2 separate regions of the Homo sapiens genome follow, and region 2 is linked to region 1. Evidence: fine-mapped expression QTL. A gene starts in region 1. The other region holds a variant in brackets. All regions are shown on one strand. Distances are between the middles of the regions.

The links. PIP is the estimated chance that this variant, and not a neighbour inherited with it, causes the effect.
Region 2: its variant is fine-mapped to the expression of JDP2 in cerebellum (GTEx, PIP above 0.99).

Annotation. Positions count from the first base shown.
Region 1 is chr14:75,425,543-75,430,906 of GRCh38, reverse strand. It overlaps JDP2 (Jun dimerization protein 2), which reads right to left and starts at 2,885. Exons shown (of 4, transcript NM_001135048.2): 1 at 2,655-2,885. It overlaps JDP2-AS1 (JDP2 antisense RNA 1), which reads left to right and starts at 3,252. Exons shown (of 2, transcript NR_184172.1): 1 at 3,252-3,437; 2 at 4,196-5,364. RefSeq lists silencers at 2,237-2,406, 2,467-2,646, 2,897-3,166 and enhancers at 2,832-3,389, 3,357-3,416, 3,437-3,766, 4,017-4,116.
Region 2 is chr14:75,467,622-75,472,985 of GRCh38, reverse strand. JDP2 (Jun dimerization protein 2) reads right to left here. Exons shown (of 4, transcript NM_001135048.2): 4 at 1-3,696. The coding sequence ends at 3,511. Among named protein-coding and RNA genes, the nearest start is that of JDP2, 42 kb to the right of the region's middle. The variant A/G (reference allele first, on the strand shown) is at 3,172.

The sequences.
Region 1 (5,364 bases):
AATAAGTAAAGAAACACAGTCTGAAAATTCCAAGACTGGGTCGCTAAGGCATTTGTCTCTGCTGAGTTCCGAGAGGCCAAACCACACACACACACAAGAACGCATGTGCACACACATGCACACGCACACACACATACACAGGCACATGGAGCTTGGCAGCCCCTAAGTTCCAGAGCTGGTAATACAAGCCACGGAACCGACTGCCAAGACAAGCAACAGAATGAGCCAGGCCCGGTTTCATTGGCCACCATACGCTGCATATGGCCCGGGACGCAGCCAAAACAGTGTTCTCACCCTCCTCAAAGGCATAGGAGACCCTCTGTTTTCAAACACACCTCCACAGAGCCTTAATTAAAGGAAAATGGAAAAATAATGTGCCTGCTGCCCTCCCCTGCCTATATAGGTATGCACACACACATACCCATATACACTCACTCCATTTTTCTCTTCCTCCCATTTCGGTTTCAAACATAATTCATTCGCATGGAAAAAAAGCAAACTGCATCCTGCAGCAGAAAGGCAGAAAAGAATGTAGCTTGCCCTCAACCCTGGCTCTGATTGCTCAAGTTGAGCTGGAGCTGAATGAATACAGAGCAGGCCGGCCTAGAGTCGGCGTTGGCCCCTTTCTTTCCAGAGTGGAGCTGGAAACAGACACTCGAGAGAGACAGCCCATTGCAACACCAGTAGCCCCACGACAAACAAGGCCCAGAGAGCCTATTCCTGCCAGGGATTCTGCAGGTTGGAAAAAAATGCCCACACATCCTACAAACAGGTAGGGAGATGACAACAAACCCAGGGAGTCAGGAGGAGCATTCCCTGGTAGCTGCAAAAGTTAGGCAGTGGATGAGTGGGGAGACCCTTATCCAAACCCTTCCTAGGGGGCATTGTCACCACTTTGCAACACATCTCCTTGGAGGTGGCTGCAGCCAACCTAGGAGAAAAGCCAGAGGTCTACACACCCATGACTTCCTGCAGCCCACCTAGGAGAAAAGCCAGAGGTCTACACACCCATGACTTCCTGCAGCCCTTCAAATCACACAGCACCCAGCTCTTCAGGAAGATTCTGGAGCTGCCTGCAGCTCTGAACCAAAGCCAAAGTAGAAGGGAACAGAAGAGTCTTTGAGAAATCCATCCTCCCTGCTCTAAACAAGGCAAAACCTTAACCACCCAGAGGTGTGAGAATAGATTTTGCTTCTCTTCCTCGATCCTCAGGTTTATACAAAATCAGAGCCATGCTCACACCTGATACCTGGTTAAACTCTCCCCTAGAAACCTGCAAAGGAAGATAAGCTATCCATCCAAGCTGCAGCCAGATTTGCTGGAAAGGTAAAAGCAATGGGAAGTGTTTTTTAAAACCCTCAGGGAAGGAAGGTTGGGGGGAAGGGAGATGATACGCGAATGCAGTTTCTACCAAGGGCTTAAAGGACGTTTGGGTACAAATGTACCCAAACATGGTTCAAAGCTTCCCAATTCCTGATGCTCCTCCAATTAAGACCCTAGGGAGAGACCACCAAGATTTAAGCCTGGGTACACACGCCTAAGCAGGCTGCAAGCCCTTTCTGAGATATAGACCTGAGCACATTTGCCCTGAGCACACGTGGTCGGGCCATAGCCCCATGCCCTGGATTCCAACAGGGAGGGCAGCACCCTGGGCAAGGGCCACGCCATCTTGCAACTGGAGATGACCCAAGGGGGTCGGCTGATTTCTCCTTCCACCAGCCTCTCCATCCCTGCAAAAGAGCCAGGACCTCCCCATCTTCCCCAGCCTCCTCATCTTCCCTGCTCCTCCTACTGACCCAGGCAAAGCCTGGCTCTGCCATCCCAGGGTCCAGGGATCCAGGTGGAAGGCCCAATCCACCCCTACACTCTCCCACCCCCCACTGCACCCCTACCCCTCGACAACCTCCTTTGAAGGGAGGAGCAGAGGAGAGCCTTCTAAGCTGGGCTGGGCAAGGGAGAGGCTGGTTACCTACAGGAGCCTGCTTGCCTCCTTATATAACCTGGCGTGGGAGACAGGAGAGCCCAAAGGGGACCCCGGCCACCCCTAGATCCCCTCCCAGCCCAGAGCTCCGAAGCAATGGCCATGAGAGAAGCTGCCTTCATTGGATGGAAATCCCGAGCCCTTCTCAATACTCTCCTCCGGGTCCGGGTCCTCCGGGAGTCGCGCTTCCTCACTGCCAGGAGGTCCTTGTCATCCCTCCACAATCTAACCCCGACCCCAACCCCGCACCTCCCTGGCCCTTCACCCTCCACCTCCACCCGCACAGCCCATCTCCGCGGGCACTTTTCTCCCCACTCACCCCGCCTTCCCCGCCGCCCGAGGAGAGCACCTCCCTGCAAACGGACGGGGGAGGAGAGCGCGGGAGGGAGAAGGAGGGAGCACCCCGGCTGTCCAGGGAGCGGACGGAGCCTCCCGTCCCGGGGCGGGAACCAAAAGGAAGCCTCAGGCTGCCGGGCGCCTCGCGGGAGGGGCCCGGCTGCAGCGCCCGGCGCGGGGAAAGCTCGAGGTCCCTGGGCTGCGGGAGCCTCCCCGCGGGGCTGGGCTGGGGCTCCTCGCGCTCCGCCCGTGCGGGGGCGGCCGTCCCAGGTGCCCGCGCCGCGCCCTGCCCCGCCCCGCCCGTCCCGGCGCCCCCAGCGCGCGCCCTCGCACCCACCGTGCAGAAGGTGCGGGGGGAGGCGGCGCCCCCGGGGCCGGGGCCCGGCTGCAGGCGCCGTGCCCGCTCCGCGCCGCTGCCGCCCGGCCGCGGAGCTCCGCCCGGTGCCCAGGCCTGTCCCGGCCCGGGAGCCGCCGCGGCGCCAGCCCCGCCGCCGCTGCAGCGTCCGCCGCCGCCAGCGCCCCCCGTCGCGGCCGCCGAGCGTCCCTCCCGCAGGCTGTGGCGGGCGGCGGGACGGGTTGCATCAGCCCCGGCTATATAGCGGCCCCTGGGCGGCGGGGAGGGGTCGGGAATGCGGAACCGGCCGAGCTGCCAGCTCCAGACGTCAGAGGGGGACGGAGAGGAAGGGAAGGAGGGGACCGGGGAGGAGGGGGTGTGGAGCCGGCGCTTCACACCCACTGACCTTAACCTCCCCCGCCGCCTTGGGCGCCCTCCTCCCGCGGCCGCTCGCGCTCCTCTCCCCGCGGGGGCGTCCCGGGTTCCATGCAGTCCCCCGGCTCCGCCACCCCACGGTGCAGGAGCGCTCGAGAAAGCAGGACGCGGCGAGCGGTTATGTAAGCGCACCCCCCGCGCACCGCCGCCCGGCTTGTGCCCGCCAGGCAGCAGCAGCCGCAGCCCTAGGAGAGAGACGCGAGAGGCCGGAGCCGGGGGAAAAGTCAAAAGCCCCTTCACGCACAGCCTGTGTTAACCATGTACCTCAGTCCCGGCGCTTCCCCCACAAACTGAGAGCGACAGGGAGAATTTCCGCACAGTTTCATCCTTGGACACTTCAGGACTGAGCGGGTGAGGAGGCGATCTCGCCAGCCTGCTTTATTTTTCGGTGGAGAAGGATGGGCTGAGATGAAGGCATTTGGGGACTCCTACCCCTACCCACCGGCCCCCGCCAGCGCCCTTAGGCCCCGAGACGGCTGGCTGCACCAGCCTGACCTCTGCTAGGGCTGCAGCCTGAGACCGCGGCTTGCTCTACTGCTGGCGCAGTTTGACCCTTGGGCTTGTACCCTGCTCCAGCGGGCTTCTCCTTTCCACTCCGGACACAGCAGTGAGCAGACCCAGCCCTCAGCAGACCCCAAGTGGCCTTCTTCCCCGTTCCAGCTTCAATAGCCAACCCCACTCCCACCTTCCATCCTTCTAGAGAGGAAATGGTGAAGGGGACTCCAGAGGGAAGGCGACATCCATGGTGCCCTCCAGTATACAAAGGCAGAGACACAGAGCCCTCAGGTAGAACGGGGTTCCCTAGATGGCATCTCCTACCTCCAGAGCTCCTGGGTACCCATCGAGCCCCCTACCTTCTGCCTAAGCCAGATAGGAGTGACGATTTTTATACTCAGCGACTTTCGGCCTCCTTCTGAGAGTGATGTCAGGTCATCACCCATAGAAGAAAGGAAGTGAAAGAAAAAGTTCATGCCTTCTTGGAGTGCAGATGCTCAGAGTGAAAGAAACAACAAGACTTGAGACAGATGGGTGCCATTGAGCAAACCCGAACATGCATGTCTCTCTCATGTGAGTGAGTGCATGAGACTTTATTCTCCTTATTTCCCCAGTGCAGTGAAATCTTTCTGGATAAAAGAAGTGGGCTAATGGAAGGAGAGACAGACCAAGTCCCAATGACATTGCCTGACCATTTTCACCTTCGCCATCAGCAGTCTCCCTCACAGCATTGGTGTGGGCAGGTAAGAAGAAAGCAAGGCCCTGAAAGAATATACATTGGAAAATGAGCAGTAATTTGATACTCTTGTGGAAGAGCATGACTCTTCGCCCCAGAAAGGCCAATGACACCTTTACTACAGCGTAAAGATCAAAGCCAGGGACTGTGAAACTGCCTCATGATGTTTCTCCCATGAGACCTGTGTCTGGATGTTTATATGGAACAAAACATGGAACAGAGGCAATAGTACTTGATGTGTCTTCAGCTGGGGCTTTGGATAAACTAAACTGATCTATATTCAGGGACTAATAATTAGGGTGTGTGGTTAGAGCGCGTCCTCTCTAGGGCCTGTTTTGGACTGTGGCTGGGCCACCAGCAGTCCTACTGGGCCTTTGCTTCCCCCACAAATTAAATATGTTACAGGGGTGGCACCAAGGGGTGACTTGGGAGGCCTTTAGTCCCCTCTACCTCTCTATAATCTCCATTAGATCTTCTCTGTTATTTGCTATTGATGCTTTTCAGTTTCATATAGGACGCTATAAGAACACAGCTTCAAGGCCTCCCTTCCGCCACATACTCCCTACTAGGCCCCTCTACGTAGTCACTGCCTCTGGGAGTGGCTAGAGGGAGAAGCCATAAACTGGGTCCTTTATGCAGACATTGGATGCTGGATGGAGCTGATTTACCACTGGCTCTTAGGGACAGACAAGTGACTCAGCCTAAGGCAGTTTGAATTTAAGTTTCCTATCACAACTAGAAAAGTCCTGATTAACACGCCCAGCCCTAGTCAATGGGCTGATTGAGAGATCGTCACATATCCCAAGAAAATCTCACAAGACTGGGAATTTTGTGGATCTGCTGGAAAGAGAAGCTGCCAGAAGCCCCACGTGAAAGGGAACTACTGAGAGTGAAGCTAATGGGAGGAAAAGTAGAGCCAAGCCACGGAGGGAAAGACAGATCAAGTTCCAATGACATTGCCTGAGTTCCTGAATTCAGTCATGCCTGACATCATCCTGACCTCTGCAGGTTTTAGCTATAGGAATCAGTAAATTATGTCTTACCCAA
Region 2 (5,364 bases), 42 kb before region 1:
AGGAACCCTGGGCAGAGGTGGCACAGGTCTTATGTGTGACCACCTGGCAGGAGGGCACACTGAGGCCCAGGGAGGGAATGATGCATCCAGCATGGCTGGTTGTGACCAGTCAGGAGCTGAACAGATCCAGGAGTCTGCGATCCCAGGCATTCATCACACCATAGGGACCACGTACAGGGTCAGAACACAAACTTGGCAGCCCATCTTTACAGAATAAAACATATTTAAATAACCTGTACTATGTAGATATCAATAACTACCGACACTAACAGAGGACAAAATAATTACCATTTTAGGGAGCTTTTATTTCACAAAACACTTTGTATATCCATTCCTTTTTTGATCTTGATAACTCCATAAAAAGACTTGGATTATTACTGTTCCCACTTCACAGATAAGAAAAATGAGGTTCACAGCTAGTCAATAGAAGATTACATCATGAACCCGTTTGCCTTTAAGGTGTGTCTTCTGTGAACACCCTTGGAGATGGTTTGCCTGAGACTTGGGAATTCTTAACATGTACTGTGAGCACAGGTGGGTCTGTGCCATCTCTCCCGGCTTCCTGCACAAGTTCCCTGGCAACTGAGGTCACACCACAAACACATTTTTCCTCTCATGGGGAGGCTCAGCCTCAGGTTTTATGCACCTGAAGTCAGACTGACAATAACATCTTGGCTCTGCCACCTAACACCTGTGACCTTGGGCAGGTTACCTCTTCTGTGTGCCTCGGTTTTCTCATCTGTAATGTTGGAACGCTAGCACCTACCCCCCAGTCAGGGTGCACAAAGCAGTTGAGGTCACACATGCACAGTGGCAGGTGCCCAGAAGAAACTCAAATGCTGGCTCTTGCAATGAAGCCTATAATTGTGACTTCTAGCCACAGGAGCAGCCAGTGGTCCTGGTGAGGAAGGCTCCGCACAGCACAAGTCACTGGTGTGGTGACTTTGGAAGACAGCCCACCTGCACAGGCTAAGGAGGCTCTATTTTGGAGATGCCAGCTCCCGGTGGCCAAGCACAGGACCAGGGAAGCCACAGCCAGTGGCACACGGCAGTCCTGTAAGAACATCCACTAGGTCACTGGAGGGACCCTGGTAAGTCCACTTCATTTTTCTCATGGCTTGAAAAATATCAAAGGATTACAGCGCGAGGGGTTCCTGATGCAGAACTGACACTGCCTCACCTGCATCGTCCGGACCGACAGCCTCAAGACCCCCGAGACAGAAGGCAACCCGCTGCCACAACCTTCTGCCACAGCTGACAGTGAGAGGACCAGGTCCTGTTTCTAGGGCGGGGTGCAGGGGAGTCCACACCAAGTGTGTTGGGTGGAGGGAAACTGAGAGGAGTGAGCGAGGGAGGGATCACAGGTGTGTTAATCACCATTCTCCACTTCTGCCCATCCCAGAAGGCCTCGTCCACAATTTGGGAAGCAACCCAGGTTCACTGCTGTTCTTGACACGAAGTCATCACCAGCAACTAGTTATCCTAAGTCCAGGGATGGAGGAGAAAGAACACATGATTAGAATGCAGGAGTCAAGTTTAGTTGGGTAAACTGTAGCCTTTGCAAGCTTCAGTATACAAGGAAGCTAAAAACACCTCTCCCGCCTTCCTCATGCGTGACATGCCTTGAGAACTGCCGAGTGCCAGGTACACAGCAGGCACTGAGTGAATGCCACTGAGCTGCTCCGGCCCTGGGTGGCAGGGATTCAGCTGTCGAGGTGAGGGGGCAGAGAAGCCATCCACACCCTTCCCTGGGTCAGACACACATTGACCAGGGTAGTTGGTTCACTCTGTGATCATGGGACAACCTGGAACTCTATCCAGCCTTCCCAGAAACTAAATCTATAACTGTGGCCTCATAAGCTTCCTATTCAACCATGAGGACAATCATAGTGGGTTGGTGACAGGAGGAGAGTCACAGGCCTCTGGAGGGAGAGTTCAAACACCAGCTCTATCCCTTGCTAGCTGGGTTACCTTGGATAAGTCGCTTACCTTCTCTGAGCCTCAGTTAAACCATCTGTAAAATGAGAAGAATCGTGCCTAGTTTGTGCTCTTGTGAGAAGGGAAGAGACTATGTCTGCTTGTCACAAAATAAGTCTTCAACAAATGGTGTCTGCGAGTTTAATTCCCTGGACCTCTAATTCGCCATCTGTGAATTGGGGACAAGTGCTGTTCCCTGGCAAGGCTGCCATGAAGACGAAATGAGACAACTTATGGAGCAAGCACAGGATTCACTCCTTACTGGAGGCCCCACAAGGGCAAGACTTAGGTCTGTTTCATCCTCCAGTGAATTCTCAGGGCCTGGCACACACAACAGGCCCTCAGAAAACATCTGCAGAGTGAGCGAACACTCTGACTGCTCTCAAAATAGTAACTGCAGGTGGCTTAATGTCTCTGAGCCTTAGCTTCCTCATCTGTGAAATAGGAGAGCTGTTGTGAAAATGAACAGGCCTATAGCAGAGGCTCCAAACAGTCTCCGACCCTGAGAGGGCCTTGCACCCATTCCCCAGGCAGACACCACGCAAGGCGGCTATGTAAGTAAGAGCAATGTTTACTGAGCGATACAGGACTGAGTACTATGAAGGGTTTACAAGGATGGAAATGCACCCCGCCCCCGCCCTGGCCACCCCCGACACCCAGAGACTACAGTACTTAGGAGTTACACACAACGGCCGTAACTGGTGGCTATCTGTTCATAACAAACAAACCATAGCATATTTATACTGTATCACATCGAGTGATTATAGAAATCCATATATATATTGCTTGTATAAAATCTTTTTTTTTGTAAAAAATATTAAAAAAAAAAAAAAAAAGGAAAGTATAAAAAACATGTGCAGTTGAAAGCCCTGCCAGGACAGCCAGTCTGTAAACATTCGGTGAGTATGTGCTTTGGAAGGGCGCCCGCGCCTCAGTGCCCACAGCAAACTCCAGCAGGGCTGGCGAGGGTGCGCCCGGCTGCCGCCTCCTGGGCAGGGCCGCGCTGGACCGAGGTGGGTGGGGGCATCAGGGCCCCGCAGCACGCCCCTCTCCAGCTTCGCATCAGGGCGAGGGGCAGGGCTGGGGGCAGGTGGGTTGCAGTTTCATTCTGAGTTCCATCCTCAGCCGCGTTTTGGTTGCAACTCATGGCTTTTCCTGGCTGTTCGGAGGTTCCTTGGATGGGTGCCCTGGTGA[A/G]GAGGCCAGAGAAGAGCCCAGGGCTGCCTCGTTGGGCGTCTCCCTGGCCTCGGTGCCTCTGTCCTGCCTCCTTCAAGTGGGGCCCCAGGCAGGACAACCCTACCCGAGGGTCAACTTTGGTCTCAGCGCTTGGTCCCTCTGGGTTTCCTCAGCCCGCTCTTCCTCCTGGGTGGCTGATCTGAGTTTCACAAAAAAGCTCGGCTGATGCTGGCTGTGCTGAACCTCATTGTACAGTTTTTCATGCACCAAAGGAAGGGCCATCTGGGGCCCCCCTCCTCCTCTCTCTTCGTCACTTTTCCTTCTCCTCTTCCTCCTCCTCCACCTCCTCCCAGCCCATGGTCACTTCTTCTCGAGCTGCTCGAGCAGTGGGTTGCCTTCTGACTCGGGGGTCTTGACACTGTCGGTCCGGACGATGCAGGTGGGGCGGTGTCGGTTCAGCATCAGGATGAGCTGCTGCCGCTCCTGCTTCAGCTCCTCAATCTGGGTCTTCAGCTCTGCGTTCATGAGTTCCAGCCGCTCGGATTCCTGTATACCAACACAGAAGCACGCTGTGAGTTTCACGGGGACTGGCTCTGGGGAGAGGCTCTGCCTGTGGTTAGGCACAGGGCACGCTGGGCTGGCACTGGCCTGTTTTCTGCAGGAAGAAGCACAGACCCTGCTACTGAGCCCCTGGCTAACTGACTTTCTGCAGGCAGTGCCTGCCACAGCGGTGACACTGGCCTGTGTCATGTCCAGGTTATATTCTAGGGCCAGCCAGACTCACGTCCCACCTCTCTCCCCTCCCTCAATCCACCCCAGCTTCAGTGACCACCTTGCTGTTGCTCAAATATGCCAAATACTCTGCCGCCTCAGGGCCTTTGCACAAGAAAGAAAGGGTGGGCAAAGAAAGGAGGCCAGGTGGACCTAGAGCAGGTCTACGGAGCAAGCATGGGGGGGCCCAAGAGGGGACCCAGATGGCAGTGTAACGGCAACGTGCTTTGATGTGTGACAGACACATGTGGGAGATATCTTGGCCGGTGGGATCAGTGAGTGTAGTGTAGTCATGTCATTCCTCCTAAAACATGTGCTTCCTAGCTATTAGTCTATAATTATTTCAATAGCCTCTTCCTTATCCCTATAATCTGGAAGCTTTGCCCACAGACAGGGAATCAGCAGTCATCCTGCTGGATCCCAAATGAGGTTTCCAATAGACCTTGAGTGAGATTTCCAGGGAACTTCCGGCTCAGCTGGAGAGGTTCCAGGGGAAGGAAGGAATGTTGACGATTTGATTCGGGAGGTGGCGAGGGTTACATGTCCATCGTGTAGATGGGAGATGGGCATATCGATTCAAGGCTTGGGGGATTGAACAGTAAAACAGCATCTGAATGATTTTTCTTGGATTATGTCTGAAAACTTTGAGACTTGGCATTTATTCGAGGGCCAGCAAAGTTTCAGACCAGTGGTTCTCAACTAGGACTGATTTTTGCCTCCCAGGAGACATTTGGCAATGTCTGCAGACATTTTTGATTGTCACAACTCAGAGGGAGCTGTGCTACCAGCATCTAGCAGGTAGATGCCAGAGATGCTCTAAACACCCTTCAATGCACAGGCCAGCCCCACAAGTATTTAGTCCAAAATGGCGATAGCGTAAGAGATTGAGCAACTTGTATCAGTCAAAGAGCAAGCAGTAGTTGCAACTGCGTATGTGACAACCAGAGGGCCCGTAAGCCCATAAGCCTGCCAGTCCTCCTGGCAGGGTACAGGTGGAGCGGCCTCCCCAGGGGGTCCCCAGAACCCTCAGTGGGCCCAACCCTCTCCCTCCAGGGGTCCCGTCTTCCTCCCACAGCTGGTCTGACCGAACTGTTCCTTGGCTCATCTCTGAGGTGGCAGCATGAGTGCCCGGGAACTCTGAGACGGGCAGGCCTCGTGACCAGACGCTGAGAGAAAACAGCCTCACTAAAGGAAAAAAAAATGCTCGGGGAAAATATTAAAAACCAGCTCTGGTGGTTTTTGGTTCCACAGGCTGGGACGTGACTGGGAAGCTGGCCTGGTCCTCTGTTCTGAGAATTCCAAGAGAGGCGCATCTCGGAGGGCCAGGAGAGACCCCTCGTGAATCCATGGAAGCCTGTGAGCCCTCGGGCTGGGGCAGTTAGGTGCCAATGTCAGCCCCCTGCTCACTGGTGACTCTCTGGTGACCTTGGGAACTTCTCACAA